Regions from separate parts of the Homo sapiens genome. Here regions 2, 3 and 4 are each linked to region 1. The links come from fine-mapping of genetic effects on gene expression. A gene starts in region 1. Each other region holds a variant in brackets. All regions are shown on one strand. Distances are between the middles of the regions. Region 1 holds the start of S1PR3 (sphingosine-1-phosphate receptor 3). Region 2 has its middle 39 kb from the start of S1PR3. Region 3 overlaps LOC124902205 (a long non-coding RNA gene). Region 4 overlaps LOC124902205 (a long non-coding RNA gene).

The links. PIP is the estimated chance that this variant, and not a neighbour inherited with it, causes the effect.
Region 2: its variant is fine-mapped to the expression of S1PR3 in whole blood (INTERVAL, PIP 0.98).
Region 3: its variant is fine-mapped to the expression of S1PR3 in blood mononuclear cells (TOPMed, PIP 0.91).
Region 4: its variant is fine-mapped to the expression of S1PR3 in monocytes (Quach 2016, PIP 0.95).

What each region holds. Positions count from the first base shown.
Region 1 is chr9:88,987,859-88,995,660 of GRCh38, forward strand. S1PR3 (sphingosine-1-phosphate receptor 3) reads left to right here and starts at 3,610. Exons shown (of 2, transcript NM_005226.4): 1 at 3,610-3,837. RefSeq lists a silencer at 3,156-3,450.
Region 2 is chr9:88,948,498-88,956,299 of GRCh38, forward strand. No RefSeq gene overlaps it. Among named protein-coding and RNA genes, the nearest start is that of S1PR3, 39 kb to the right of the region's middle. The variant G/C (reference allele first, on the strand shown) is at 4,423.
Region 3 is chr9:88,910,618-88,918,419 of GRCh38, forward strand. The region is part of intron 3 of LOC124902205 (a long non-coding RNA gene); the gene reads left to right. Among named protein-coding and RNA genes, the nearest start is that of S1PR3, 77 kb to the right of the region's middle. The variant A/C (reference allele first, on the strand shown) is at 4,641.
Region 4 is chr9:88,920,774-88,928,575 of GRCh38, forward strand. It overlaps LOC124902205 (a long non-coding RNA gene), which reads left to right. Exons shown (of 4, transcript XR_007061654.1): 4 at 2,720-7,411. Among named protein-coding and RNA genes, the nearest start is that of S1PR3, 67 kb to the right of the region's middle. The variant A/AT (reference allele first, on the strand shown) is at 2,136.

The sequences.
Region 1 (7,802 bases):
TGACTGTCTGTTGCAGCCTTTACGCTAAACAGAGCTAAGAGTAGAGATAGTGCAGATTAACTCAGACCCAGAAACTTGGGGAGGCACCCTGGGATCCTGGAAGCAGATGCTGGGAGGGCAGAGGGGACCGAGAAAGGAGGTGCATTTACTCAGCTCTTCTGAGACAATTCTGCTCTCCTGCGGTGCACTCGTTCTGCTGGAGAAAGGGCTCACTTTGAGTTTGAATCTTAAAACTGCATGTCCTTTAACCACACTGTACCTGCTCACCAGGCTGTGGACACTAAATTGTTGGGAAAGTGAATATATTTCATTTTTTTAATTAAAAAAGCATGTAAGGTTATATTACATAATTGTGATATATAATACATTTATTCAAATCATATTTAAGTTTGGGGCCACATGATTTTCAAAAGTATACAGATATAACTCATAGTATCTTTCAATTTTATTCCCATAAGCCTAGATTTGATTTAAAGTCTAAGCGCAAAGGTAGAGAAATTTTTTAGTTGTTTAGTACCTGCCATTTTATTTTTCTCCAACTTTTTATTATGGAAAAAGTTCAAAGATACAAAGAAGGAGAACAGATTGTACAACCCCTTCCCTAAATCCACCACGTAGAACCAATAATCACCAACCTTTTGTCATATCAGCTTATGTGCACGTACTGTGCTGAACAATTTAAAATAAGTTTTAGACATGAAGACATTTTACCCTTTAATACTTCAGCAGCACCTCCTAAAATTAAAGCCATTCTCCTAAACAAACATTATGCCATTATCACACCTAAAAACATTAACAATAATTCTATACTATCAGTCAATATCCCCTCCAATTTGTAATTTCCTCCAAAATGTTTTTGTGTGCGTGTGTGTGTGCTGATTTGTCCAGCTGGGAGTCAATCCGGATTTGTACTTATTGTTATACTTCTTCTTTTCAGCTGTTCTTATACCAGAAGAATCCTTCACCCCTTTTTCTTGACATTGATTTTTTTTGGAAGAGCTCAGGACTGCAGAATGCCCACACTCTGGTAGTCCAGTTTTTCCCATGGTGTCATTTAACTCATGGCTCAAACTCTTCCATTTCCTGTAAACTTGCAGTAAAGTCTAGAGGCTTTGCAATTGATTCAATTGAAGCATCTTTGGCAAGCACACAGCAACAATGATGTTGTGTGTTTCTTTTGCATCACATAATGCCAGGTTGAGCCAGTATTAGTGACACTGAGTTTGATCTTCCTGTAAGGTACAGCCAGATGTCTCCATAAAAAAATGGAAAATGGAAAACCTTTTTCTTTTTTTTTTCCAATTAGCACCCGTTCGCCTGCACACTTTCACCTAAGGGTTTGACACCCACTAGTGCACACTGCCTGATTTAATTATTTCATTAAGGGTTACAGAATGGGGATTTCCTCATTCTCGCATTTCTACGTTTATGAGCTGGCATTCTTCTGTTAAACTGCTTTCACTTGTGAAACAGGATGCAGAGGAGGAGACTTATTCAACAGAATTGTAGGGAGGGCTGTTTCTCTCAAAAGGAGTGGTGAGAGAAGATGGTCTCTACCGGGGCATGGAGGGCTCCTTGTCAGAGTCTAGTGTCTGAGCTTTAAGGCCCAGGAAGAGGGCAGCAGATGGGGGTGGGGCAGTGGGTGAGTGAGAGGCCCGTGTGTGGGGAGACCCACTGAGGACAGGGATCTTTAGGCAAACGGAGCCTCACTGAAAGAGGAATTTCAGTGATGCCATGGGTCAGATCCTGGGTCTCTCTTAGGGAAACCTGCCATAAAGCATGAGAGCCACATTACTCCTCAGGGCTTCTGGGCTCCGATTCCGCAGACTAGTTTTGGAGGCATCACCACGCCTCAAGGTTGCTCTGTTATATCAGGGTAACTGACTTTCTCTAGGAACGGAGACTTGGGTGCCCCTTAAAACAACCCTCAGCCAGTATCCTAGCAGTAAATTTTTCATCACGGGAAGCAACTAATTGAACAGAGGTGTGATGAACCTACTGACCACTTTGGTAATATAGACACAGTGGCCACAGTATGCTGTATTGTTATCCTGGTTGTGACCAATGCCAAAGGAGCATGTTTCCTTCTTTTCTTGACTTGATGCTGTAGGAGTCCAACAAAGGGAAGCACATTCAGGCCCACATGAAACTTGGGACAGAAGTGGCTTCTCAGAGCCGTGCACCAGGCACTTTGAACAAGTTGGAAGGCTACAGTGCCGGAAGACTCCACAGTAGCACAGGCGAAGTGGCTTAGGCGAAAACGCTGGGAAGTACCCCAGCTCCCGGGGGCCAGAGCCTCTAGGGCTGGCAGCCTCAGCAGGCAGAGTCACTTGCCTCCTTCAGCTCAATTGCTGAGGGCTTGCGTTTCTCTGCAGGGAACAGGAGTGCCGCCGACTTCCACTCTTGGTGCCCTTCACCGCTCAAACTGCACCCCAAATAAGCGTATGCACCCTGCTCCAAGAGAAGGATGCGCTGGGCTGATCCTCTGGAGGCAAGAGGGCAAAAGACAGAAAGTAACGAGCGGCCTTTGCACAAACTCAACTCTCTGCAGCGGCCCCTGCGGCCCAATCCTGCCGGCCCAGGAATGCACGGTCGGATAACAGGCCTCTCCTTGCTTTTTCGTCTTCTTCCTCCCGCTTCTCTCCTCTCTCCTTTTCCTCCTCCTCCTTTTTCTTTAATTTTCTCCTTTCTCCCCAAGCTTCTACAGTTGTTTCTGTGTTCGCTCAATCATGGCCTTTGGCATTGATTGAAAATTTGGCAGTTCCTTCTCTCGGAATTCTGTTTGAAGCCTTCATATGGATTTATTATTATTATTATTATTTTTGCCACACAAAAGGGGCAAATCCGCGTGAGGAAGGGGGTCGCATGGGGGTCGGCTGAGATCTGCTGGCTGCCGGTCTAGGAGGGGCGCTGCTCTGTGCCGGAGTGGGCTCTGGTGCACCAGCAGAGGCTGGGGGAGAGTGCTGCCCCCGCCTGGAGCCCAAGTCTCTGCGTGCCTGGGGGTAGAGCGCGGAGAGGGACCAGGCAGGCGCCGGAGGGGACCCGCGCGGAAAAGGAAGAAGCCCAAACAAAAACGCTGTCCGGCGCCAGGCGCCCACCTGCAAGCCCAAGCCGGTGCTCGGCCAGTTACAAAAGAAATGGTCAGGATCTGGACAACGATAATGATAGTATTAATCCTCCTATTAAGAATCGGCCCAAACAAACCCTCGCTGTCAGGGCGACAGGCGCCCGCCCAAGCCCAGACCTCGGACCTGGTTCCAAGCCTGTTCCCGCTGGGTCTCTGGGCGCCCGGTTTCTGCACCTGGAGCTCGCCCGATGAGGACAAGGTCTGGAGGCCGGCCTGGGAACAGGGGCCGAAGGGCGAGCCGGACCCTAGGGGATTGGTAGGGTCGGGGAGAAGGGGTCCAGGCTAGGGGCGGGCGGGGCGCACGGAGACCAGGCGGCTTGAGCGGGAGGTGGGGAGCTGGAGGAGTGCCGGGTTCGCGGGCGGGGGACGGGGAGAGGGGGGCGGGGAGAGGGGCGGGAGTCGGGGGCGGCGAGGGGAGGGGCGGAGCGCGGGTCCCGCCCCGGCGGGCCGCTGGAAAAGTTTAGTCTCTGACTCGCTCGGGCAGAGGCCGAGGAAGCCGGTTCCGGGGACGGGCAACAGGGACTCAGGGACCAGAAGGCGGCTGCAGGACGCGACCGAGCAGGACCCCAGGCCCGGGAACGACGTCGCGAGCGCTGAGACTGCCGGGCCTCCCAGCCCATCTGGCATTCGAGCGCAGGACCGGGCGCCCCGGCACCGCCGCGCGCCACCCGCTAGGATGCCGGTGGCCCCAGCGCCCTCAGCCGACGGAGGTGAGAGGCGGGCCCGGGCGGGGCGCGGAACCAGGGTGGGGGGCTGGGGGCCGAAGGACCCACCTTTCCAACAAAATCCCCACCGATCCCGGGCGCGACGGGGACTTGGGCGCGCCACGGCGGCCGGAGCGCTCCACATCAGCACCCCTCCCCCAGAGCCGCTGCAGGAACAGGGAGGAGGCCTTTTCCACCGCACCCGGAGCGTTTACAACGGGCTGGAGCTGAATACCTGGATGAAAGTGGAGAGGCTGTTCGTGGAGAAGTTCCATCAGTCGTTTTCCTTGGACAATTAACAAGTTAGGCTTCCACAGTGCCAGGGCCTGGGGATGCTGGACGTGGGAGAGGGTTGTGGTCGTTAGCCTGGGAAAATCATTCTTTTAAACAATATTCGCCGGAAAATTAGTTTTTTCCTAACATTTCTCAAACAAGGCAATTAGGGCCGTCAGAATCGGTGCTGGAAGACGAAGTCCCCACAGTGCAATAATGAGGTTCCCACGGAAAATCAGTACGTTGTGTTCGTAACTGAGATAACAGCTAGAGAAGGGGCTTTGGGCTTTTTGAGTCTCCCAATAGTCAGTCTCTCTCTCTCTCTCTCTCTCTCTCTTCCTCTGACTTTCTGGCTTTGGACACTCCCAATGGTATATTTCTTTGTGGTGTTTTTATATTTGGATATAAGAGAGGAACTTCTTGTTGGATTTTTAAGGGAACACACTTCGTTTTGACCCTTCCAATAAGGAAAGGGGAGCTACAGGAACAGAGAGCTCTTTAGAAGGTTACTTTTAAATGGAGGCCCCCCCATTCATGGTACCCACTCCCACTTGGACCTCTGAGACCTCCAGAATTAGGCATCATTCTAAAATCTGGACATTAGAAGTCACAGACTTTGTATATAACCACATATTCATAATTTATCTTTTCAATGTTTTTTATTCATAGATGAAAATCTTGCAGGCATAGTTAAGAAAAATATAATTCCTAGAAAGTACAAGGGAAGGATTATGCTCTGCAGATACATGACTAACAAGGATAGCTGGCCATGCCCAGGGCTGGTGTTGGTTGAGGAGGTGGTGATGGTGCGGGGCATGTGTGTGTGTGTGTGTGTGTGCGCTTGAGGAGTTGTGGAAGTGTTCATATCTGTAAAGTATTATTTCATGGATGCAGACCTTAATGCTAGGTTGAATAACTTTGTTGCCATAGAAGAAGAACCGCACGTCAGGCTTTTTTCATTAGCAAACCAGTAAGCACTCACTTTGGGCCTCTGAAATCACTTCCATCACCTAACACCAGAGATACAAACTGAAGCTAGCCCTTAAGAGCCTCCCCCTAAGATTTAGAGAGAATGATTTCTCAACCAGTTTTCATCTTTGAAAGTGCCATTTCTCCCTTTATCATTGTGATTTTTATTCAAATGCATGAGTCTCTGATTTTCTACCATATACAAAGGGTAGAGACTACAGTTTCCTATAGAAGAAACTTCACATAGTGGCCGAAGGATCTTATTTCTCAAAATTCAGGAACTGGTTTCCTCTTTCTGGAAATTATGACATTAACTTGATTTCATGGTATCTCTTTCATCTTCCTCAATGCCTGTGCTGTATGTATATTTTTATTATATACTGTAGGTATATTTTTATTACCAAAAAAAGGAGAATTTGAGCATGCCACAATCTTGAAAAATCTGAGGTTGCCCTGCTGTAGAACCCTTTAACTGCCAGGACTTTGTACTGTTTCCCAAGTGTTACCAGAGCCAGGCCGCCAGCCTTATGCAGTCTGTTTACCTTAGCTGGAACCAGGGTGCTGTGCTGTGGGTTCTATGAAACTTTCTGTTTCTTCATATTTGGCTTTGTAATTCCTTTCTTATCAGTTTTGGAGGCATTTCCTATTATTCCTCTGCCATATGTTTTCTGCCAAATTAATTGCCTTAAGATTTTCCTTAAGCTTTTGGAAATGTATAATGTTTGAGAAAAAAGAAAAAGAATAGACTGAGTGGAATCGTATCTAGTTTCAGTTAATAACATGTTTCAGTTGATGTTACTGTTATAGCTACTGGGCATAAAGTCTCCTTCCCTTTTTTGAATCCTATTTTTGAGGCATTGAAGCTGTGTCTGTAAGAGACAATAGGCCAGTTGGGTTAAATCAGTGACGAGATTGTCCAGTGCAGATTGGTGCCCAGTGAGTGGATCTTCACTGCTCACAGGCCGGACTGGGGTCAGCTCACACAGCGAGGTGACGGTCCGCTCCTCAAGCAGTGGATGGTGCTCTTCGGCCTTGCAGATGCCGCTCCATTTTCCTGGCTTCAAAATTTTCCAGATATTTCAGTGCCCCCAGAATGACATGCTAACATTCTGCTGGCATGGGAGCATGAGGCAGTTTGTCTCTAAAACATGCCAGAGAATCTCTTGTCACTACCTAGGCAAAGAACCAGTGGCAAGGTGGCAGCCTCCCAAAGAGCTCATCCCTAATGTGACATCCTGGAATCAGATGGCACGGACACCGGCCCAGCCCCTTCCCAGCTCTGTGACTAAGGACAAGTGACACCCCCCCTCCCCCAGCCTCGGTCTCCTCCTGTGTACATTCAGAAGGCAGATGCTGCCATGAGGCCATGTGTGCTATGTCCATGGTGCAAGGTGGCACGCATGCCGAGTCACCAGGTGAGACTGCCGCTTTGGGAAGGGATAGGAAGGATCTCCGGTAGCCTTCGTGGGCAGGATGCCTCTTATTTGAATGTGCCTTTAGCCACCTCACAGAGCCTATTTCCACATCCCTGTGGATTCATCCCTGTGGAAATCTTGAGAATCATTTATCCTATGCTGTCATGAAGCAGCAGCAGAATGGAGAAGGTTTAAAAAGACTCATGGACAGGCAAAGCGGTCAAACACCTCCTGGCTCAGACGCACTTGCCTTCCCACACACAAGTCTGGAAGCTCAGGATGGTGTTCACGGAGGCAGATGCTCGGGGCCGGGGCCTGAGTTTCCTGGGGCACAGCCTCCATATCTGGGGTTCCCTGGACTATGCCCAGATAGCTCATAATGTCCCAGCCTTATTTGTGATGGAGAAGGACTTGGGGAAAAGCCACCGGGAAGCAGTAAGTCTAACCAGGGAAGTGCACTGACTTGCATGCTTTGAAGAAGAGAAGGGAGAAAAGATACAAAACCCTCACCTGGTTTGTCTGTAACAGTTGTTATTTCTCAGGGGAGCTGCATTAATGGGCCAAGCCTGTGCAGCTGGGTGTGTGAAGCATGCATTTTGCAATGGACTGTCTCCAAAAGCAGAGCGAGGTCACCCAAGAAATCTAGAGCAAGGGAAAATACTCATTAGCAAAGGAATTTTGCTGGAGCCTTGTAACGGCCGACTCATTATTTCCTTTCCAAGTTATTTTAAATGAAATTTTAAAAAACATCTTGCTTTCCAAGAAATTTTGCTTGTTGGCATATGTTTGGTGTTTTGATTCAGTTTGGAGGATGAACTAGTTAATTTCCCTGGGAGTACATGCCTATTAAAAATATAGCATCCTGCATCTGACCAAGATGCTATCTTACTATCTTATTGTGCCTATCTTTTATGCGGAGAGAGAAAGGGGGGTGTTGGGAAGGAGACCAGACTGTGGAAACATTTTCTTTATTTTTTCTCTTTTTCTTCCTTTTATAGTTTGTTTATTTTTCAACTTGACATGGGTAGAGAAAGCGAATCGCTAGTATAGAAAGCACATCTGGAATCCATCCGGCCTCCTCTCTCTGGCTCACCCTCCTCCCAGCAATGTTTCTCCTTGGAAGTTGGGGGAAGGTAGGCACCTCTGACCTTGGCAGGGTCTAACTTGGGGTCATCCACTGCATACTCATCTTCCAGAAGGCGTCTTATTCCTCCTCGACAAAAAAAAAATGTGTTGGTATTAAAATGCTTTGAGGTAGGCTGGATGAACCCAGCTTAGTGAGGATGACATGAAAACCCTTAGCTAATGGGGTCT
Region 2 (7,802 bases), 39 kb before region 1:
AAGACCTGTACCTGTGGGTATGTGTGTGTTTGTGCATGTGTTTGCGTGTGTGTGTCCATGTGCATGCACGTGTGTGCATGCATATCCATATGTGTCCCTGTGTGCATGTGTCTGTGTCTGTGCGCACAGTGTGGGGGAGGGGCAGGGTGTCACTTGCTGCATCTCTTCCTATCAAAACTCACCTTCCATTTGGCTAATAGATTCTTCTATCTACTTTTTCAGCATTAAATTTTTAAAAAACTTTTGTTATATTTTGGGGTGGAGGGGACAGGATCTCACTCTGTCACCCAAATGCAGTGGCACAATAATGGCCCACTGCATCATCAAACTCCTATGCTCAAGCAATTCTGGCCCCTCAGCCTCCCAAGTAGCTGGGACGACAGGCGCGTGCCACCATGCCCTGCTATTTTTTTAAATTTTTGGTAGAGATGGGTTCTCACTATGTTGCCTACGCCTTACCTTGCCTCAAGTGATCCTCCCGCCTCAGCCCCCCAAAGTGCTGGGATTACATACGTGAGCCACCACACATGACATCTTTCAACATTTTTAAGTTACTTTTTAAGTTACTTCTTAAGTTACTTCTTAAGTTACTTCTCCTTTGTAATGGGAGAGAGGTGTTAGTTGATTTCCTCTGACTTTGGCTAATGCCTGCCAGTCTCGATTCATCAGAAATAATGATGAGAAGATTCGAATGCTCTCAAAGCCATTCCTACAGAGCCAGCCTCCTCTCTCAGGCTGTGATATTGTCTCTTATGGGTGAAGGTTTGGGTGCGGGAAAATTGAATTAGATGAAGAATATTAGCATCTCCATAAAATGAAATTTGCCAGAGAAGAATTCTTGAGTTTATGGAAAGGAAAACAGGGGAAGTTATAATGGGGTGCTGACACAATGTTGGTGCTGTTCTGAGTGTGTGTGTTCTGCAGTGGAGCCACATGCAGAACGCTGAAAGTCCCGATGGCCTGACAGCCGGGAGACATCCCTTCTGGAAACGTGCCAACTCCTCAACCAAGATGGAGCATCACTTCCTGAGAGGCTTTTGTTTCAGTCTCCCCCATGCTGGCAGGTTATTGTTCAGCATCTGGAATCTGACCCTGGAGACAGAGGCGCCGTTTATTTTCAGACTCAGCTAATCACCAAGGCCCACACCCGCCTGATGGGGAAAGTGCAAAGGTGGGAGAGACTGTTCCCAGAATAGAAGCGTTTGCTGCTAGTCCTTCCAGAAACGTTGCCAAGTACAGAGCTGAATGCAGACTGGATTTCTTCAACAGCTTCACCTACACTCCACAAATCTCTTGTCACTTCTTTCCCCAGTGCTCATATAAATACACCATGTATTTTATAATGTGTATATGAATTCCCCAAGAGAAATCTAGTTCAAACTTTCATATTGCAAACATGCCTGGCCAACACTTTGGCACTCTGTGCACCCGAGTGTGTCCATGTTAAAATGCCTACTATTAAGGGATTACTTTGCCCCCTTTCAATTTTATAGATATGCAAACTTGAGTGTGAAGTGGCATGTCCAAATTAGTGCCAGCTCATTAGGCCAATAAAAGCTGGGAATCAATCTCATTACTGTTTTTGCCCAGTTCTGAAGAAGCTTCCAGCCACCAACCTGGTGACTCAACTAGCAACTGAGAATCTTCATGCATCATCCACACCCAGTGGGGCTGTTTACACACTCCTGCCTCCACCACAAGGCCCTGCAGTCACACCTTCATCACACTCCAGCCAAACACCCAAACGAAGAGGGTCACAGATCTCTTTGAAACTTTGATGAAAGCAACCAAAAGCAAAGGCATTTGCTCACAGAAGCATTTGGCATACTTGCCCTAGAATGGCCAGTGGCATCTTCTCAGCCAAGCTTAGCAGCTGGAGCTGCCCCTTCCTCCCCAACCAGAGCCGCTCCATGACCTGACTCTGCTCAAGAGATGTGCCCTGTTCCCAGAGAGGCTCAGGCTTTCCAGCAAAGTCCGCAGGGCTGCCTGCAGCCCCTGCTTAGGGTTGGGCTGGCCCCCTCCTCCACTCACTACTTCATGCACAGCTATAATCCCCTGGGCCATGAGAGCTTGTTCACACATCTTCATTGTTCATGTCTTTCACAATAGCATAGTTGTGAAACAGTCCTGTATAAACACATCACAGACAAAGGCAAACAAGACAAAAACAGTTTCAAAAACTTTCACTTAAATGTGCTCACTGTCATAAGTTTAAAATTATTGAAAACATCATGAATTTAAAAGCCCAGGAAAACGAAGACTCGTCTATTATTTTGCCTGCAAGAAGCACACACCAGTGAGATCGTCCAGTGTGAGTCAGAGTATTTAAGGAGTAGCTCTTCAAACACTTCGATTTTTATCCCCATTGTTTTTAAGAATGGAGAGAAATGGATTGCGGTAAAAAGACGTCACTGTCCACTAAAAGTCAAAATACTGCATTTAAACTCTTCACGGCAGGCACGGATTACTTAGAATACTTTTTGTGAGGTAAACACCATGGCAGAAAATTAATGAGTCATACTAGCTAGGGATAACAAACATGGCTTGATTAGCTGCAGATAGTGAGAATTTCATTCCTCATGCATTAAGGGCTAGTTTCCTAGAGAGGAGGATCAAACAGAAACCAGTAAAAGTCCTTGGGTTGTGAGTTACAGACCTGGCCTCTGGGAGATGGGCTCTGGGCAGATGCAGAATGGCTTTTGACCTGCTTTGTGTTACATAGAAAAATGTGTGTTTGGAGGATGGTCAAATCAAGACCTCAGTTTAATGATTTCACCTCATGGGCACTGTTGTGTGGTCATTGCCTCATGCTGTGATCCATGCATTGTGTGTGTGTGCATGTGTGTGTATCTGTGCATGTGCACATGTGATTGTGAATGCATGTGCAGACATGTGTGTACATGTGCATGTCCTTGAGCAGATACATGCATCCAACGCAGTTTAACAATGTCTCCCACCTAACACTTCTCCAGATAGCTGCACAGTTGTGTTGCTCCCATGGTGTCACTGATGTGATGGTTAACTTTATGTGGTGGCTTGGCTAGACTATGGTGCCCACATGTTTGGTCAAACACCTGCTGTATTTTTAAGAGTTGATTAACATTTCAACCAGTAGATTTTGAGTGAAGCAGGTTCCTTTCTGTAATGTGGGTGGATCTCATGCAGTCAGTTGAAGGCCTTAGGGGAAAACCGACCTCTCCCTAGGAGGAGGGAATTCTGCCCCCAGACTGCCTTTGCCTTTGGACTCCAGCTGAAGCATCAAGTCTTCCACTCTTCCCTGGTCTCCAACCTGCTGGCCTGCCCTGCAGATTTTGTACTTGTCAGCCTTCACTATCACATGAGCCAGTTCCTTAAAATAAATCAGTATCTCTGTCTACACACACACACACACACACACACACACACACACACACACGCATCCTATTGGTTCTGCTCCTCTAGAGGACCCTGACTAATACCCAGCACCTTTCTATGGGTAGAAGTCAAGCAATGTTGCCAGCAGTGATATTTGGCCAACTTCATGGTCATCATGAAGACCATCATGGGAGGGTCATCACCTTGTTCCTGGCCTGTGCTATGATGCATGGGGCTTGCTTTCTGGGGTCTGCTAGTGAGAGAAGGAGCCCTGGGAGCTGAGACGAGGCCTTCATCACCCAGCCTTGGAGAAGGAGGTCAGAGAAAGTTTCTGGCAGGAGACAAGCCAGCTTGGAAAGAGACAGAGAGATGGGATGCCTTCTGGTTTCCCTGGAAAATGGGCATCAAAATGGTGGTGGAACAAGGCCACCAATTCTGGTGTTGGCAAACATGAGCTGAATTTCCCCATGGCAAACATGAGCTGAATACAGCTGGTCTGTATTGGTGCAAAACGTATTATTCTTTATTGCAGTGGTTCTCATACAGCTGAATCCCCTGGGGGACTTTTAAAAATGCCCTACCCCAGAGACTCTGACTCAGCAGATCTAGGGTGGGATCCAAGAATTTGCAATTCTTAGCTGATGCTGGCCCTGCTGATCCTGGGGCCACACTTTGAGAGCCATTGTCCTATCAGGATAAATTTTTAAGCACCCATGGTCCTCATAGATTGGGGATTGGGTGAACCATCACAGGCCATTGCATTGCTTGATGGTACTCAGAACCCAAAAGAGGGGCACCCAAGAAAAGATCGGGTTGTTAGTGCCAGCCTTTCATAGAAAAGAGCAGGAAGGCACAAGCAAGCTCCTTCTCATTTCCCGCTGTCTTCACCACCACACCAGGATGGAGTGGGCATGGAGTACAAAGGAATCCCTCAGCTCTCCCACCAGGGTGAGGTTGCACAATAAAGTATCCATTCCTTTGTCCCCCCAAAAAACATAAGAAGCTCTTGCTTCTCAGGGCATTGTGCATACACCACCTGGGAATATTAATTTAAAACACAAATAAAAA[G/C]CTACTCCTAAGACCACCAAATTCAAAGTTTGGGAGCCAGAGCCTGAGAACCTGCATTTAACAGCGCCCCATTCACATCAAGCAGACTGAAGTTGTGACCCAGCCCTATTCAGCCTCCTCCTGGTGGGTCTGGTGCCCACAGTTCCCCTCCACTCTGCACCAGGCTGCTGCACACATCCCTTCAATGCACCAGCCACTCTGCTCAGGGCAGCTCTCACCTCACCTGGCCCCTCTAAGGGATGCCCTGTAAGCCCACAGTGCTGAGTCAGTGGGATCAGTGGGCATCGGGAGATAGGGACCTGCCTGCAGAGGACAGAGGTGCCCTGGACAGTGTGGTGGGGGCCACACAAGAGCAGCCCTTGAGGGTAGATACACCACCCAGTTCCACACTCATAACTAACCACTTTCATCTGGTGAGTCGGGAACAGTGGGAGCAAATTGTGTCGCTCAGTGTTCAGCTTCACCCACAGATTAACCACAACATTAGGGACCCACAGTCCGTCATCTGCTACACATCAGAGGGAATGAGGGATGTGAGTCCTGCCCAGCGATGTCTCATTCTGACTTCGTGGGATTTCTGGCCTCTGTCAGAACAGGAAACAGGCTTGTGTTGCATTAAGGATGCTGCCCTTGCTGCGTGGACTCTTTAGGAAGGAATGAGAGCAATTTCCCCAGAGTGGGGCAGTTCCAGGTCTGGCCCTCCTTTCTCCCAGGGGCAGGAATCGGCCTTTGTGCTTAGGGAAAATGGACACTGGGCCTTGTGCTTGGAGCTTCTACTAAACTCATCTGAGAACTAAACTCTGCCCAGAAAGTTGAACAATGGACCTTCTGTGTTAGAGAGTTTGAAAGTGAAAGTGGTCATAGAGTTGAATTTTTGGAGACAACATTCTGGCTCCCTGGGAGACAGGGATTAAAGCCTGGGTAGTGTACCACCCTCAGGGGCCTTGCCAGGGCAGCTGGGTCCCAGGGCTGACATCTGAGGAGCTGCGCTCTGAGTGGGAAGGGAGAGTTCCCCTGGTCCATCTCCACCAGGGCAGAGAGCTGACTGCATGGGAGACTCCAGCTCCTGCAGGTGCCAGCCATGGATAGCCACATCCTGTGGCCCCTAGGAAGCAGCCACAACAGCTGCAACCTGGCTGAGCTGGGAGGGCTCTTCCCAATGGAGAACAAAAGCCTGGTAGACACATCTTCAGGACTACAGAAGAGATGCTCTTGAGGTAAAAGCATCCTCCATAGGAAGGGACCACAGCCCCTCAAAGTTAGTGATGATGGCTTCCTGCCAAATTTGGCTAGTAGTGCCTCAAGCCAACTCTAATTAAATGCAAGCAAAGAAAGAATGTGGTATTACTCTCAGGCTGTCGGGTAGCACACCACATATTCTGGTGATTCAGCTTCCTCAACCACATGCAGGAAGACAAGGCTCTGAGAAGCTGACAGGAGTCCAGAGGTGAGGACGCTGGAAGGCAGGTGGGCTCATGATCTGGAGCTGCTGTAACTAATGACCAGGGGCCTAAAACAACAGGACTCTATTCTCATTGCTCAGGAAGCCAGAAGTCCAAAATCAAGGAGTCAGCAATGTTGGTTCCTCCTGGAGGCTCACAGTGGAATTTATTCCATGCCTCTCTCCTCCACCCCTGGTGCTGCCAGCAACCCTTGGCTTGGAGGCACCTCACTCCCATCGCTCCCTGCATTGTCACATGCCTTCTTTCTCTGTGTCTCTCCTCTTCTCATAAGGACACTGGTCATATTGGATCAGGGCTCACCCTACTCAACTCCAATTAAGCCCAAGAAAAGAAGGAAATATGCCATTACCGCACACAAGTACCCCACACTTCAGGGATGTTTGGGAAGGATGATGTACCTTGGAACTCCTCCAGAAGCTCTATATCAGTGCAACTGGAGGTGACTTTTGCCCTCTGGGGGCACATGGCAACCTCTGGAGATGTTTTTGTTTGTCACAACTGGGAGGAGATGCCTCTACTGGCAACTAAAGGGTCCAGGCCAGGGATGCTGCTCAACCTCCTGCTGCACCCAGGACAGCCCCACAGGAGAGAATTCTCCAGCCCAAAATGTCAATAGTGCCAAGGATAGAAAACTCCACTCTAGATGATTTTTTAAAACTGGGTGTTTTCTTAATTCAATTAAAAAGATTTCCCAAACATGCCACCCTTCCCCCTGTCTCCACATTTATGGAAGCTCTAGCCCACCACAAGCGACACTTCCCTGCTCTAGGCGCTGAAGTCTTGTGTCTTAGTTTGGGTTTTTCCGAAAGCAGACACTAAGAAAAGTTTTGTTGCAGTGGTTTATTTGGAAGATGATTCTAGGAAGCACTTCCAGGGGAGAGAGGAAGTGAACCAGGGAAGGGAGGAGAACCAAGGAAGGGTGTGTTGATGAGGTGCTGTGGACATGTGGGGCTCAGGACTCAGTCCTGCTGAGGACCCCGGTAGGTCATCTTCAGTACTAGCCTCTCAAGGAGCAGGGGAGATGGTTTCACTGTCAGTGTCTCTTTGATAAAAGCTGATCCTGGGCATTGACTCCCCAGCCCTTCTGGGGCCCAGAGATGCCCTGAGGTTAGAGGCTGGGCCCGTTCAGGGGCTGTTTGAGGGAGGCCACTGGAGAGGCCAAGGGGGTAAAGGCCAGGAGTGGTCGACAGCCCCCACAGCTGACCTACCCAAGCAATGTGAGCTGGAATCCCCCTGAGCAAACCTCTACGCCACAGCATCACATCACACTGCAATGATCACTGTTCTCTCTAAACTCCTTAAAAGCAGTGTTCTTGTCATTAAGCTTCGTGTTCCCAGACCCTGACACCTGCTAAGCTTCAAAAAATACCTATAACGGAGAAACATATCAGTTACTCAGTTTTCACTGCCCCTTGTGGTTTGCCAACATAATGAGAAATATACCCATACAAGAGCCAATTAGCCAGTGCACTCAAAAATAGTATTTGCAAATGCCCTCTGTGCTCAGCATTGATCCAGACGGACAGGAAGACAAAAAAGAAAAGAGCTTGATCTCCACCCAAGAGCCTGGGTTTATTGACTGCAAAGACTCAACCCCACATCTGCCAGCCTGAGAAAGCAGCCAGCCCTGGCTAGAGCAGCGAGTGTTCTCTAGCTCAGTGGTCCCCAGCTTTTTTGGCACCAAGGACCAGTTTTGTGGAAGACAATTTTTCCACGGAGGGTGCGTGGGGTGGGGGGATTTGGTTTCTGGATGAAACTGTTCCCCCTCAGATCATCAGGCATTACATTCTCAGAGGATGCTCACAGCCTAGATCTGTCACATGTGCAGTTCATAATAGGGTTCATGCTCCTGTGAGAATCTAATGCTGCTGCTGAGGTGAAGCTCAGGTGGTAATGCTCCCTCACCCACTGCTCACC
Region 3 (7,802 bases), 77 kb before region 1:
TGCATCATCCTGATACCAAAGCCTGGCAGAGACACAACAAAAAAAGAGAATTTTAGACCAATATCCCTGATGAACATCGATGCAAAAATCCTCAGTAAAATACTGGCAAACCGAATCCAGCAGCACACCAAAAAGCTTATCCACCACGATCAAGTTGGCTTCATCCCTGGGATGCAAGGCCGGTTCAACATACCCAAATCAATAAACGTATTCCATCATATAAACAGAACAAAGGACAAAAAACCACATGATTATCTCAATAGATGCAGAAAAGTCCTTCAACAAAATTCAACAGCCCTTCATGCTAAAAACTCTCAATAAACTAGATATTGATGGGATGTATCTTAAAATAATAAGAGTTATTTATGACAAACCCTCAGCTGATATACTGAATGGGCAAAAACTGGAAGCATTCCCTTTGAAAACTGGCACAAGACAGGGATGCCCTCTCTCACCACTCCTATTCAACATAGTGTTGGAAATTCTGGCCAGGGCTATCAGGCAGGAGAAAGAAATAAAGGGTATTCAATTAGGAAAAGAGGAAGTCAAATTGTCCCTGTTTGCAGATGACATGATTGTATATTTAGAAAACCCCATCGTCTCAGGTTTTGTTCTTATTATTTAAATATATTTAAAAGATAATTAACTGTTTAAACAGAAATAATAACAATGTTCTGTGGTGTCTTCAGTGTATGTAAAAGTAAAATATATGACAATAATAGAACAAAGTTGGGGAGAAGAAAAATATAAATATACTATTTTTAGGTTCTCATATGATATGGAAGTGGTATAATAGCACCTAAAAGATGTATATAAAAATTATAGCAACCACTAGAATAACAAAACAAAACAAAAGCCAACAAGGGACATAAAATGAACATTTAGCAAATAATTACGGTTAAAGAATTATAATAGTCAAAATTAATATATTAATCCAAAAGATGGTTTAAAAAATAAGAGAAAAGGGAAAAAAGAACAAAGGGGCAAACAGAAAATAAATACCAAGATGATCATATTCATATCAACAACCATATTAATAATCACATGAAAGTAAATAGTCTAAATACTTCAAATAAAAAGGCAGAGATTGTCTAATTGGTTGCAAAAGCAAGACCCAACTATATGCTGGCCATAGAAAATACATAATTAGGAAATACATGTTAACATTAATCAAATAAAGCTGGAGCTACTACATTAATATCAGACAAATTAGACTTTAAACAAAGGAAATAAGCAGAAATAGATAAAGAGATTTCATGACAAAAAGATTAATTTATCAAGAGGAAATAACAATCCTAAATATCAACAAAAACAAAACAATTGAAGCAAAAACTGATATAACTGCAAGGAAAAATATATAATTGTATAGTTATAGACAGAGAATTTAGTAACCCTCTCTCAATAATTGATAAAACAGGTGAACAAAAACTCAGTAAGGAATAGAGTATTTAAACACCATTAACTAATTTGACTTAGTTGATATTTATAGAACACTCCACCCAATAATAACATAGTGTACATTATTTTCAACTGTACACATAATATTTACCAAGATAACTCAAATTTGGTGCCATTAAACCAGCCTCAAAAAGTATACAATATTCCAAGTCATACAAAGTTTGTGCTCTACTCACAATGAAATTACATTAAAAATTAGTAACAGAAAAATCTCTAGAAAATCCCTCAAACATGGAAACTAAACAACACATTTCTAAATAAGCCATTAGTCAAAGAAGAAATTAGAAGGGAAATTAGGCACTGTTTTAAAGTGAACGAAAATTAAAACATAACAAATAAAAATTTATTAGATTATCACTAAAGCATTTGGGGGAAATTTGGAGCACAAAACATTGATATTAGAAAATGAAGTTCTCAAATGTTAAGACCTCAGCTTCCACCTTAACAGTACAAAAAAAAAAAAAAAAAAAGATCAACTTAAACACAAGGTAAGTATAAGAAAGGAAGTAAAAATGGTCAGAATGGAGGTTAATAAAATAGAAAGCAGAAAGACAATAGAAAAAATCAATAAAGCCAAAAGCTGTTTCTTTAAGATCAATAAAATTGATAGACATTTAGCAAGATTGATCAGAAAATAAATCATAAATCACCAAAATCAGAAAAGCAAAGTGGCATCAGAATCAAAAGATAATGGTAGGAAAATAAGATAATATTATGAACAGTTCTATGTGAATTAATTTGTCAACATCAATGAAATGTACAAAGCCTTTGAAAAACCACAAACTACAAATGCTTACTGAAGAAGAAATTGATGATCTGAATAACTCTAAATTAAATAAATTGAATTTGTAATTAAAAATCTTCTCACACACACAACCTCCATTCCCAGGTAGCTTCACTAGTATGTTCTACGAAACATTAAAGAGAGAATGAGTTCTGAGTCTACAAAAATTCTTCCAGAAAATTAAAAAGGAGGATATCCTTTCCAACACTTTCTGAGGCCAGCATTACTCAGACCCCGGATCCTGACAAATTTATTAGACAAAAAAAGTGGAGACTAATATCTCTCATGAACATAAATGCAAAAAAATCTAAACAAAATTTTTGTATTCTAGCTGACAGTATATCAAAAGCAGTAGATATTGTGACCAAGTGGGGTTTACCACAAGTGTGTAAGGTTGGCTTAACTTTAAGATCTTAATCACTATAATTCATCCTATTAAGAAACTAAAAAAGAAAAACTTGTATCATCTCCTTAATAGACACAAACATGTATTTGATAATATTCAACATATACTTGACATAAAAGCTCTCATCAAACAAGGACCAGAAGGGCATCTACCAAAAACCCACAGATGACATCATACTCAGTGGTAAATGACAAAATGCTTTCCTCCTGAAGATTAGAAAAAACACATTTCTATTCAACCTGGAGGAGGTTCTCACAAGTACAATCAGGCAAAAGAAGGAAATTAAAGGCATTTATATTGGAAAGGAAAAAGTAGAACCTTTTATTTGCATATGACATGATCATCTTTGTAGAAATGAAATGGAATCTACAAAGAAAGCTAATACAACTAACAGGTGAGGTTAGCAAGTTTCCAGTATAGAAGATTAATATACAGAAATCAATAGTATGTCTATGTACTCACAACAAACTATTAGAAATTGAAAATTAAATAACATTTACTTTAGCATAAAAATAAGATACCTAGGAATTAGTCTGCTTCAAAGGAGTAAAACATCTGTGTACTGAAAACCGTAAAATGGTGTTGATAACAAGTAAAGATCTAAATGGAGGAAAAAATATACTATGTTCATAAGTTGGAAGACTCAATATTGTTAAGATGTCAGTTCTCCACAAATTGATCTATAGGATCAGTGCAATCCAAATAGAAATTCCAGTAGGCTTTTAAAAAAATTTGATAACTAAATCTAGAATTTACAAAATTCATACAGAAATTCAAAGTGCCTACAATAGTCAAAACAACTTAAAAAAATAAAAACAAATTTGGAGAATGAATATTATCTTATTACTAGATCTATGAAAAGCCTACAGTAATCAAGATAGTGTTGTTTTGGTGAAAATACAGGCAAAACAATTAATGGAGTGTAGTAGAAAGTCCACAAATAAAGCCACACTATATGAACATCTAATTTTTGACCAAGTTTCAAAGGCAACTTGATGGAGAAATAATAGCCTTTTCATTAAATGATACTGCAACAATTGTGCATCCATAGGTAAAATGATGACTCCATGCTGTGTGATTCAAACTATAGGACATTCTGGAAAATGTGAAACTAGGGAGACAGTAAAAAGGCAGTGGTTGCTAAGGAATGGGGGAAGGGAGAGAGGGATAAGTAGATGGAGCACTGAGGATTTTAAGGGCAGTGAAACTACTCTGTATGATACTGTAATGGTAGATTCACGTCATTGTACATTTGTCCAAACCCATGGACTATACAGCGCCAAGAGTGAACCCTAATGTCATCTATGGCCTTGGGTTAATAGTGATGTTTGCATGTTCATCACCTGTAACAAAAGGGCCACTCTGGAGTGGGATGTTGATAGTGGGGGAGGCTGTGCATATGGTTGAGGGGGTGGGGAGTATATGAGAACTCTTTGTGCCTTCCTCTCAATTTTGCTGTGAACCTAAAACTGCTCTAAAAAATAAAGCCTATTAATAAAAAGAAATAAAAAAAGATGTTTAGAAATAAAAAGTACCCCTATACCTGTTACCCCTGCTCTCTGGCTTCCTCTGATGGAAACAGAAAGCGGCTTGGTCTGGTGAGGGGTTTGAGCCTCTGTAGAAACTAGGAGCTGCAGCTGAGATATTTGCCTCCTCAACTTCTGCCCTCTGCGCACTGTGGAGTGAGTGAGGAGAGGGTGCTCCTTTTCCTGTGGGCATGCAGCTCTGTGAGGGTTCTCCGGCCTTTTTGTCTTTTTCTTCAGCAGGATTTCCACATCTGATGTTTATTTTACAACCGTGTCTTGTTTTTCAGGTTGCCATGAACAGAAGCAAAATAGTAGGTATAAAAAATGTCTTTAGATCTGCAGAAGAAAGCCACCCTATAAACCCAAGGCATTATTACCAGCAATAAAATGATTCAGGACATTCATCTCCTATTTGTCCACTTTCCAAAAAGAACCTTTTCTTTCTTTTGCTGACTTCTCTACATCT[A/C]TTTCCTCCCACCTGCTCTAGAAAAGTAAATATCTGGTTTCAATTATTTATGGGACGTAGAGTTATTTTTGTTCCAATGGGGTCTCAGAGATTTCTCACATTTTAAACAATTTTGTAGCTTCCCAGGTAGAAATAAAGGAGGCCTGGGACCTATTGCCTCACTTTCTCATTTTCTCAAGATTCAAGGCACCACGTGGTACTCTGACTTCTGTAATTACTCTATTGGGCTCTCCATCCGATTGGAATGTTTTCCAAGGAAAGAGAACTAGATTTTTCTAATCTGATTTTAGCTATTTTAAAACAACTTTTAACCAGTCTGGCTATGGACTAATTCCTAGTATTTCAGGTTTATTATGGGAGATAAATCACTGTAGCCTTGGAAACTGGTCATGGAGTTGGGGGTCCGGGACTGACACTGTTTTTGGCTGCTACATGTGTGGGAGCTTAGAGATTCCACCTGGCAACCTGCCCAGGGGACGCATTCTGGGCTCACCCTGGTGTGGGCTCTGAATTCCACAGAGCTCAGGTCTCAGGCAAATGCCCCTGGACTCAGCACCCTTGGGCCCTGGCAAAGAACCTGGGCTCTTTTCACTGCAGAAGAGCAGCTGAACTAGCTTTTATCAGAGGAGGATATTTTTGATAGTGTTAAACAGTTTGCTATAGTATTTACTTCCAAGCTGAGACACCGACAGAGCTGGGAGGCATGAGATGTGTTTTCTGGGCAGACCGGTTTCCTCATTAAATTGGGGATAATCATACTTTCTTTTTGAACTTCACTGGTGAACCTGGCAAATGTTAGAGGTGGGTGGACTCTGAGGCCATCTGTGCAATATGATTTCTCTGCAAGGAGTAGGTCAGCTGGCAGATAATAAGGTAGCTTCTGTCACTCCAGATTGTTTTTTTCAGGTTAGGCTGTGTAAACAAATGTGAACCTGAGGAGTCCTTTGTGGTGGATCTGGAGTGGCTAATAGGCCTAGATTTAAAATAGTAGCCATTTCCTGATTAGAGGTACTCTGAATTTCCCCAAAACCCACACTGCAGTTCCCCTTTGGGACTTTCAGGACTCATCTGAACCAACCGATCAGAACTTACCTGCAATTCACCAATCAAACTCAGCTGCAATCCACCAATCAGAACTAAGCAAGTTTCAATCCTTCACTTGCATAAACAGATCCGACTGGGAACCTGGGTGGAACCCTTTTTTGCTATGAAACCCAAACCCTTCCCTTGTTCTCTGGAAGGCAGTTTTGCTTTACTCTGAAGGCCTGCATCTCCCCATTTTGCAGGGGATAATCTACTTCTTGCTCTTTTGCTTACCCAAGATAGCTTATACTTTGGTATATAAGATCTCTTCTGAGACACACAACAATCATTTAGGATTGATAATGTAGATATTGTAATTTCCAGAGTAGACGGGTGGGGAGGTGTCACCTTGCAGGTGGTAAAGTTCCTCCCAGGTGCACAGGCTGGTGGATAATGGAAGGAGGGAGGAGCTCTCCCTTTTCCTAAAGCTGTTTGGAAGAGGTTCTCCGCATTCTTCTGCAAGTAAAATTTAGTCTCAAGGCTATAGTGATCTCCATTTATCTAAAATAAAATGACATAATAGATTAATACATATTCCTTATAGAAAAGTAACAAAATGTAGATACAAAAACACATCATATCTCCACATAAGCTCTGCTGTGGGAGTGTGTATAATAGTGTACATGTTATTGCTTTTTTGCATATGTATAAGTGATTTTAATATAAAAAGCTGTAGCTTACCTTAGTGTTCAATAATTTCCACTCCCTGCCAGGGTGTCCAAGGGAGAGAACACAGTCATGGGTTCTTAGTTTCTGTTTCTGATTGGGCTGGTAAAGCCCCTTCCTCGTCCCTCTTTTCCACTTATCACTAGAGACAGAAACTAAAAACCATGGCTTCATACTGCTAAAAGCCTAAAACAAAACAGAACAGAACAACAACAAAATAAAGCAAGTTGGACAAGGTTGCCTTAAAGAAAGCCCTAAAATCATTGAGCATCTGGAGAAAAAGCCTTGGACATTCAAACTGACTCCACTGGTCAATTAAAGTTCAAAGTAATGCCAAATTTTAAACTCAATCTCGAGGTATTTCAACAAACAGAAACTTGGCACAGTGGAGACCCCAAGGGCACCCAAGTCTTTGCCCCAGGAGCCTAGAGCCTGATGTGGTGAGAAGGAGGCTGAGGGTGGAAGCATACAGGAGCTGGCACTTACTGTGTGTTTTCTTGTTCTTTCCCCTCTGTGTAGACACAGAACGCAGGGATCAAAGGTTGCCCAGGGAATGAGTGGCAGAGGCACACTTCCAGCCCAAGCCTGCTGCCACCAGGCCCATGACACAGCAAGGAACAGGGCTGTGGAGGCAGGGGAGGCCACAGAGCTTGGGGCCCACCACTCCAGAAGGTGAGCCGCAGGTGCTCCTACACAGACAAACCCAGAACCATCTTCCCATACGATCAATGCTGAAAAGAGGCAGTCAGCTTCCAGACCCACCCACAAACTTTTTTTCCCACCTCACATCAGATGTGGGAATGGTAGTACAGTTCTCCCAGTAACCATCTGTGTGGCCAGCCTAGGAAAGCAACCACAGGGACAATTATGTCTTCAATGAGATGGGACCCAAGCTCCAAACAACAAACTTGGAAACAAGCCTTTGAAACCCAGTACATTGGGAGGCAGAGGCTGGGACTGACACACACACAATACTAGATTGGTTATGGGTCACTCACCCCTCCCTCCTTCATGAACAACGCTCACCCTGCTCTGTGTTGACTCCAATGGGGTACAAAGATGGAAGTGAAGATATGAGTAGGAGTAGCCTCATGTCCCCAATGGCCACCCCTCTCAGGATCCGAGCCTTTGGGTGATCCCCTCTCTTTGAATCTGGGCTGGGCTTGGGACCTGTTTTCAATGGAAGGTGGCAGAAATAATGTAGTGCTACTTCCAGAATAAACCCTAGGAAGACCTGGCAGCCCAAGCCATGTGCTTTTGGGGGTCCCTGAACCATGCTGTATAAAGCACAGCTCCCTGGTGGAGACACCCTGCAGAGAGACAATGAAGAGAAGATTCATCTAGAGGAAGAAGCCAGGACTGCACAGAGAGAGGGAGACACCCACCCAAAAATCCAGTGGTGCAGTCAAATCT
Region 4 (7,802 bases), 67 kb before region 1:
GGAGGCCCCATATCCTGGTATTCCTGTTTCCAAAGACCCAGCCCTGCTTTCCAGCATCTCATTACCTCCACCTGGTGGGGCCTGTCAGTGTACCACAGGTCTACCTTGATTTCAAGTCCATCTCCTAATAATGAAGTAAAATGTTTTTCCCTGCATTGAAGAAATTTCCAGTGTCTTGGATGGGGGAGCTTAAGGAGCAGATGCTCATTCTTGGGGTATGGAGGTGATAACTTGTAGGCAGACTGTTCCTAGGAACACACGTAAGCTTGGCCCTTTCAGCCACTGGAAGGTAAGTCCAAAGATTCAAGAGGGAAAGGTGGCTGGTTGTGTCTGGCAGAAGGAGGGACACAGTGGAATAATTCTGCAAGTGTCACAGGGAGCCAGTCTCTGAGATGGCAGAGATAGGTTGGCCATCACTTTAGTGGGAAAAGGAGCATGTCTTTTCAAAGCTTCAAATGGGCCACATTTTTAAAAAGCATCAATTAACCTTCTACACACACACACACACACACACACACACACACACACATCTGAAAGGTGTAGAACTTTCATCAGCAGCAAAAGAGGAATGTTATTGGGAAGGTATACATTCCCAGCAAATTCTTAGCAGATGTGCTGGAGCCAACTTCCCAACTGTAGGGTCTACTCCACTGCAAAGTTTATTTGTATGAATCAGAAAATGATGATGCAGAGGAGGGTGATAATGTAAGGATCAAAATTTGATAATAGTTTTTAATAGGAAGAAAATAGCCTCAAGACTCTAGAGATTCTGTGGAATTCAGTTGCTTTATTAGAGCAAAGAGTTCTCCTTTGGGTGGCATAATAGGAGACTGGCTGCTTAGGAACTTAGTCCCTCACATGGTCTAAGGACAGTGCATGTGAAATACTCCAGCATCTTGTTAAAATGCAGAGTCTTATTCAGTGGGTCTGGGGTGGGACCTAAGATTCTGCATATCTAAAAGGCTCCCGGGCGATCCCTGTGCTGAAGGTCTGCAAACTGTGTTTTCAGCACCAAAGTTAACATTGAACCCCCAAAGTGACCACGGACTGATGGCCTCAGATCATCCAGGCCCACCGATGTACTAAGCACAATGGGCATTGTAACAGCATCTGCCACCTGTTTGAGGGGCCAGCTAGGGATTAGTGGGCATGGGGAGGGCCTAGGAGCCTAAACATTTACAAATATCCAGAAAATGATACACACACAAGTGAAAGGAAGAAGGGTGTGGATACAGGTTAGGACTTCAGCCTATGAATTCTGAAAGGACACAATTCAACCCATCAAACCCGAAAGATGGGGCTTGGGGACAGCCTGGAGCTATTGAATGATGCAAGCTATAAAAAATTCTAGAAAGGATCTGCCCTGTGTGTGCCTGGAGGCTCTGCGGGCACCATTTGCACAGTCAAACTCCTTCCCTCTCCGCTGCTGCAGCAAAACTAATGAACCACAAGAGCTGACTGGGTGGAAGCAGTAAACGACCTCCAGGCAAACACAGTGCCTGAGCCTTGATCTTTGAGGTTTAGCTGCAATGTTATAGGCCAGAAAGTTCACAAGCGAGAGCCCTGAAGATGCACAGCACGTGAGACCGCAATAACCACGGCCTTGTTTCCATCTGCAGAGACGTGAGGGTTCGTTGGCCCCACCCGCTTTGATGTTCTTTTCTTCTGTCTCACACCTGTTTGACCATCTCTTAAATAGGAACATTTTAAAACCAAATTAAAAATTCCATTTTCTGATACATTGTCTCATTTGAATCCAATTTACTAAACATATAATATGCTTTTTCCAATCTTATACTAAAATAATAAAGTGGGGCTCTATGAGAATGCATATCTTTCGTCAACTCAAAGGAAGAACTGAAAACTAACATTTTATTTCAAGGAAACATGCTTAAATGGCTCATTTGATTACTTTTATGTACACATGATACCTCAAAGTCAGATGCCTCAAATCTCAGTGTTCAGATAATCTCCTAAATGAAGATGTATAAAAAGAGCTACTTTTTCTATTTTTAGCTGTGCCTAAAGGATTTTCTTGTCTCTCAGATATTCTCATTTGCTTTGGTTATTCCCCTTTTCTTCTTCTTTCTCCTGTGTGGTTTTGCTTTATGTTTTTAACTTTCTCTGATTTTCAG[A/AT]TTTTTTTTTATTTTCTAGGTTTCTTACCTTTGCCTTTTCTGTCTATTCTTATTTTCACTTTCTTCCAACAAAACACCCACTAAAATTCAGAGCAGGATGGGTCTTTTCTCTTTCTCTCTCTCTCTCTTTTTTTTCAGTCTTTTAGTGTGCTCTCCCTCGTTGGATTATAAATGCTTATATACCTGTCTACATGTGGTCCATGCAGTGACAGAATTTTAGGAAATTAGGAAGTGTGGGATCTCTGGTCTGAAGGTGGTTTTAAGACATAGTCGTACACATGGCATCACCCACTGCTGACCACAGTTGCTAATCTTGGGGACCACAGCAGCCTGAGTTCTGAACCCTTGCCTTTTCTGCACTGTAGCTTTCAGGCTCATTGGTGCCACCCCAGCTTCATAGCACACAGGATGAGAGAGAACACTTCACCTGCAAGACTCTGGTTGATGAAGCCATTTTTCCTCCAGGTGTTCCCAGGCATGTGTTTAAGTGTGTTCCTCATCTGCTCACACAGAGCTCGAAGCAGGCATGCTCCTCTCCTCTTCTCCTTCAGATACTTCACCACTTTCTGCTTTTCTCTCCTCAGCTGTCTGCAGAGAACAGACTTCTTCACCCTCAGGAACCTCACTGCAGCCCTACATCTCTGCGGCTGGACGTCCCCATTGATCACAGACCAAGGCCAGGATGTGCTCCATATGTCTTTCCCTTTCTGCTGTTTTCTAGGCCCGAGGAGTTGACCGTGTGAGTCCTGGCTTGTCAATGGTGCAGCGGGGGCTGCAGCGACTCTGGCTCTGTGGCTTCACTGTGCCTGTGGGTGGCCGACGAAGCCATCATCTTGAGTGCATGGTGCCACCAATGCGTGTGGCAATCAGACAGGAAATGACATGGCTATATTGAAGGCCAGCCTCCGGCACTGTGGCTTCACTGTGCCTGCGGGTGGCCGATGAGGCCATCGTCTGAGTGCACAGTGTCACCAGTGGATGTGGCAATCAGACAGGAAATGACATGGCTATACCAAGGGCCAGCCGTGTCTATGCTGCCTTCAGACAGTTGGGTCAACCCTTGCCAGGGTCCAGACTCAGTCTCTGAAAAGGTCCCCCTTCCTCAATGCTCCTAAGACTGAAGCACCTACCTGGAGCTCACTGGGCCACTCACATGGGTTTCCGTGGCTATGCTACACGGGAAGCCAAGTCATAGTCAGAAGCCACTTGACTGATTGTGAAAAAAATGGCTTTCAACAAGACCAGGAATAAGCACAGCACATGTTCTCTGTTTAGACAGCCAAGAGTGGTTAATCTACTTGCCCAGGACGGGCCAGCTGGAGCTGCAGAGGAATGAACCCAGAGCCTGTGCTCCAGGCAGGCACACACACGGCCTCTGGGGTGGGGGTCGGGGGGACTTGGGGCTGGGAGCCACACACGCAACCTCTGGGGGGTCACACACATGACCTCCGAGGAGCTTCCCATGCTAGTCTTGCACAAATCCCTAAGAGTTATTTCCAGGGTATCATATGCTGATACCCTGGAAACACATGTTAAAAGCTGATGATGGTTACTTAGCGGGGTGTCTGGGCCTTTTTTGGTCAGAAACAAGAACTAGAAAGGATGAATCTGAAATTCAGAGAAAGTACTGTAGGACAGTGGTCCCCAACTTTTTTGGCAGCAGGGACCGGTTTCATGGAAGACAATTTTTCCACAGCCGGTGGGAGTAGTGGGGATGATTTTAGGATGGAACTGTTCCACCTTGGATCATCAGGCAATAGTTAGATTCTCATAAGGAGCACACAACCTAGATCCCTCGCATGCACAGTTCACAATAGGGTTCATGCTCCTATGAAAATCTTTTGCTGCTGCTGATCTGACAGGAGGCAAAGCTCAGGTGGTAATGCTTGCTTGCCCAATGCTCACCTCTTGCTGTGTGACCTGCTTCCTAACAGGCCCCAGACAATCCTGGTCTGTAGCTGGGGGTTGGGGACTCCTGCTGTAGAAGAATGAGCAGTTGCAACCAGCTCCACAGCTGAGTAGCTGCCATCACCAGCCTGGAGGGTCAGGCTGCCTCACAGGCCCTTCACTCCATTATTGGGCAAATGGAAAGGACTCATTCGGGCTGTCTCCTGGGGGAAAGGTCATAACGTGTGGCGCAGGAGCTTGTGTCTCTGATAGGCTGCACACTCCTTCCATGACTGATGGTCAGCGTGGGGAATGCTCCACAGGTTTTTTGAGTATGAGAGCCCACAAGTATTTTAGTTTATGAAGAATGTTCATACATGTCATTTCATTCATGGGTGAACTCAAACTCGAAGGACACAGAGGCAGTAAACGCCAGGTGGACTCCACATCAGGGGCCGACCAGGGTCCCAAGCCCAGTGATCTCATAAACCCCCAAAAGCGGGCCTCCGCCCCTGGGCTCTGGTAGATGGCACTGGTAGCATACTCTCCACCCCTTCCTGGCCAGTGGCACCCACTGCCTGCCTTCATGCAGGAGAGAGAGCCTCATTCAGGTCTTCAACAAGCCAGCTTTTATTTTTATTTCAGATTTAAGCCAATTCTTGTCAAGATCAATAGCATCTTGGTCAATAGAATTATTTGAAACCCTTAAGATACATAACTTTAAGTAGCCTTTGGAATAATGCACTTTAGAAATATTTTCAAAGGCATTTGACTGGAACAGCAAGGGGGTTACTCTCACTGGAGAATCCTTTCAGGGAGATGATTCGGCAGTTCAGAGTCATTTGGGCAAGCGATTCATTCTCAGCAGACCACAAATATCCCCCAGCCCTTCCTCCATCTGTGTCCCAAAACTAACAAGCCTGTTCTTCTCTTGGGAAACATTAATCTGACTAATGGCCTCAATCCCCATCTCATACCCTTCCTGGGAAGACTGGATCATCATTAACAAACCCCAAATCTTCCAGAACCTCCCTATGACTGACCAACACTCATGTCCCGACGTATGGACTACTTCCTCACGTGCCCCCCAACTCTGTTTCTCTTGCTCCCAATAGATCAGCTCTCCCCTTGGCTGGAGGCAAGTGGACTGTGCAGGGGACACTCCCTGGCAGCACCAACCCGCCTGCTGCCCAGATGCCCCTCACACCCTGCAGGGCCACGCTGCCAAAGGCCATGGCTTCCTGGTGACAGCAGTACTCCTGGAAACATTGTAAATCAACCCCACAGCCTTTCCCAGCATCTTTCCTGGGCAGAGGAGGAAAGAGCCCTGCTGTGAACAGTGTGGTCATGGGCCAGGTGTCCAGGAACAAGAGAAGTCACCCGCATGCTTGCATTCCACAGAGGGCAGTTTCACTGGCCCTGGGTCTGCTATCTGTCACACAGGTGGCACTGGATTTCAGAGTTTCTGAGGGGCGTTTTCTTTTGTTCTTACCCCTACCAAACACTATCTATGCAGGTCAAATCCATAGCATCTGTGGGCCCCTCATTTGAGGACTGCCTAAGCTCATTCTCAAAAAAAAAAATAAATAAATAAAATGAAAACCATCAAGCAGGCAGAGACGATGAAAACCATTGCTTCAGAGTGTGTCTGCCTCAGTCCTGTCTCCTGGGGGACAGGGGTGTGTAGAGAGTATGGCCACTGAGCCTGGACAGGAGCTGTGGGGTGGGTCTGCAAGCTGCGTGTCAGCAGTTGAGGTGAGGAATGGTACAGAATGAAGACTGTCTGTGAGTCCCCTGAAACTCACACCATCATTTCAGGTCTTCATACACACGAAATAATCCATGAGATAACTTTTCCAAATTAACTGCAAGAAGTCTTTAAGAGGTTGTGGGGGAACTTTTTACAGGAGCATACGATGGGAAATGTTTTGAGGGAGTCTTATTTCCCCCAAGACTATTAGAATTTTAAACACACAGGTCTCTCAGCAGGCTACCTCTGCTCTAAAATGCTGAAAATTCTATAAATTCTCAATGAGCTGTTATAAAGAGATTGTGCCATACCTGTTTAAAACTAGTGTACCTTATTCTGAAGGGCTTAAAATGTTGAGAGGGAGAGCTTAATGAGGAAAGAGAGAGGAACAAGAGAGAAAAAGAGAAATTGGCTCCTTTAAGAAGTTTCTGGCAGAAAATCAGCTTTAAAAATAAGTTGCTCAACTCAAGAAAAAAAATTCTCTGCAGAATGAACAACTGTAAGGGGAGAGAGAGAGATGGGGGCTAGGCAGAATTCCGGATGGCTCCTGGGGTCTCCCACTGGTGTGTTCCCCCATGTGATTGCCTCCCCTTGAGTGTGGGAAGGACCTGTGACCCTCCCAATGGGATCTGGCAAGGTGATGGGCTGTCCCTTGCGAGATGAAGTTGCTGTATGTGTATATACCGTACAAGGTTTTGTCTTGCTGCGTACACAGGGAGACACTGTCGTGGCCCTTGAGGAAGCAAATGCCATCTTGTAACCAAGGACAGGGCCATGTGGGGTGGCTGGGAAATGCAGAAGGCCTTGGGCTTCAATCCTGCTATCACAAAGAGCCACATTCTGCCAGCAGCCAGAGAGCTTGGAAGGGAACCCCAAGTTTCAGATAAGGACATGGCCTGATTGGACCCCAACCTTGCAAGTTCCTTGGCAGAGGACTCAGGTGAGCCATGCCCAGACTTCTGACTCCTGGATACCATGAGATAATAGATGGGTAGTTGTGTGAGTGGGTGTGTTTAAAAAATAGCTGTATTTTACACACATACGATTCACCCATTAAAAGTATACAATCCAACATACTATAGTGTAATATATTCACAGAGTTATGAAATCGTCAACACTATCTAATTTTAGAACACTTTCACTTCTCTTAAAAGAACCCCAGTCCTCATTAGCTGACTCCATATTTCGCTTTCTTTCCTGCCCAGCCCTAAGTAACCACAAACCTAGTTTCTGTCACCATAGACTTGTCTATTTTGGACATTTTATATTAATGGAATCATATAATATGAGGTCTTTAGTGACTACATACTTTCACTTACCATATTGTTTTCAAGGTTCATCCATGTTGTAGCATGTATTATGGCTTCATTCCTTTTTTATGGATGAATAATATTACATACATAAAATGTGTATAGTATAATACATTTTATTTATTAATGTATAAGTTGGTGAACATTTGTCTATCTCCTTTGGAGAAATATTTGTTCAAATCATTTGCTCATTTTTAAATTGGGTCATTTATCTTTTTAATATTGAGTTGTAAGAACTCTTTATATATTCTAAAAACAAGTTCCTTGTTAGATACATGATTTGCAAATGCTTTCACCCATTCTTTTCACTTTCTTGATGCATCTTTGGCAGCACAAAGTTTTTAGTTTTGATAAAGTCTTATTTATCTGTTTTTTTTTCTTTTGTAACCTATGTTTTTGGTGTCATTGTTAACTATTATTAACAGTTAACTATTGTTAATAGTTGAGAAACTATTGCCTCACCCAACGTCATGAAGATTTACTGCTATACTTTCTTGTAATAGTTTTATAGACTTAGCACTTACATTTAGATAGATGATCCATTTTCAGTTTGCTTTTGTGTATTGTGTGAGGTAGGAGACCAACTTCATTTTTTTTTGCAGTTGATATTCATTTTTCCTAGTACCATTTTCTGAAAAGACAGTGTTTTCTCCCATTGAATTGTCTTTGTACCCTTGTAAAAATAAGTTGACTGTAAATGTAAAGATTTATTTTTAACTC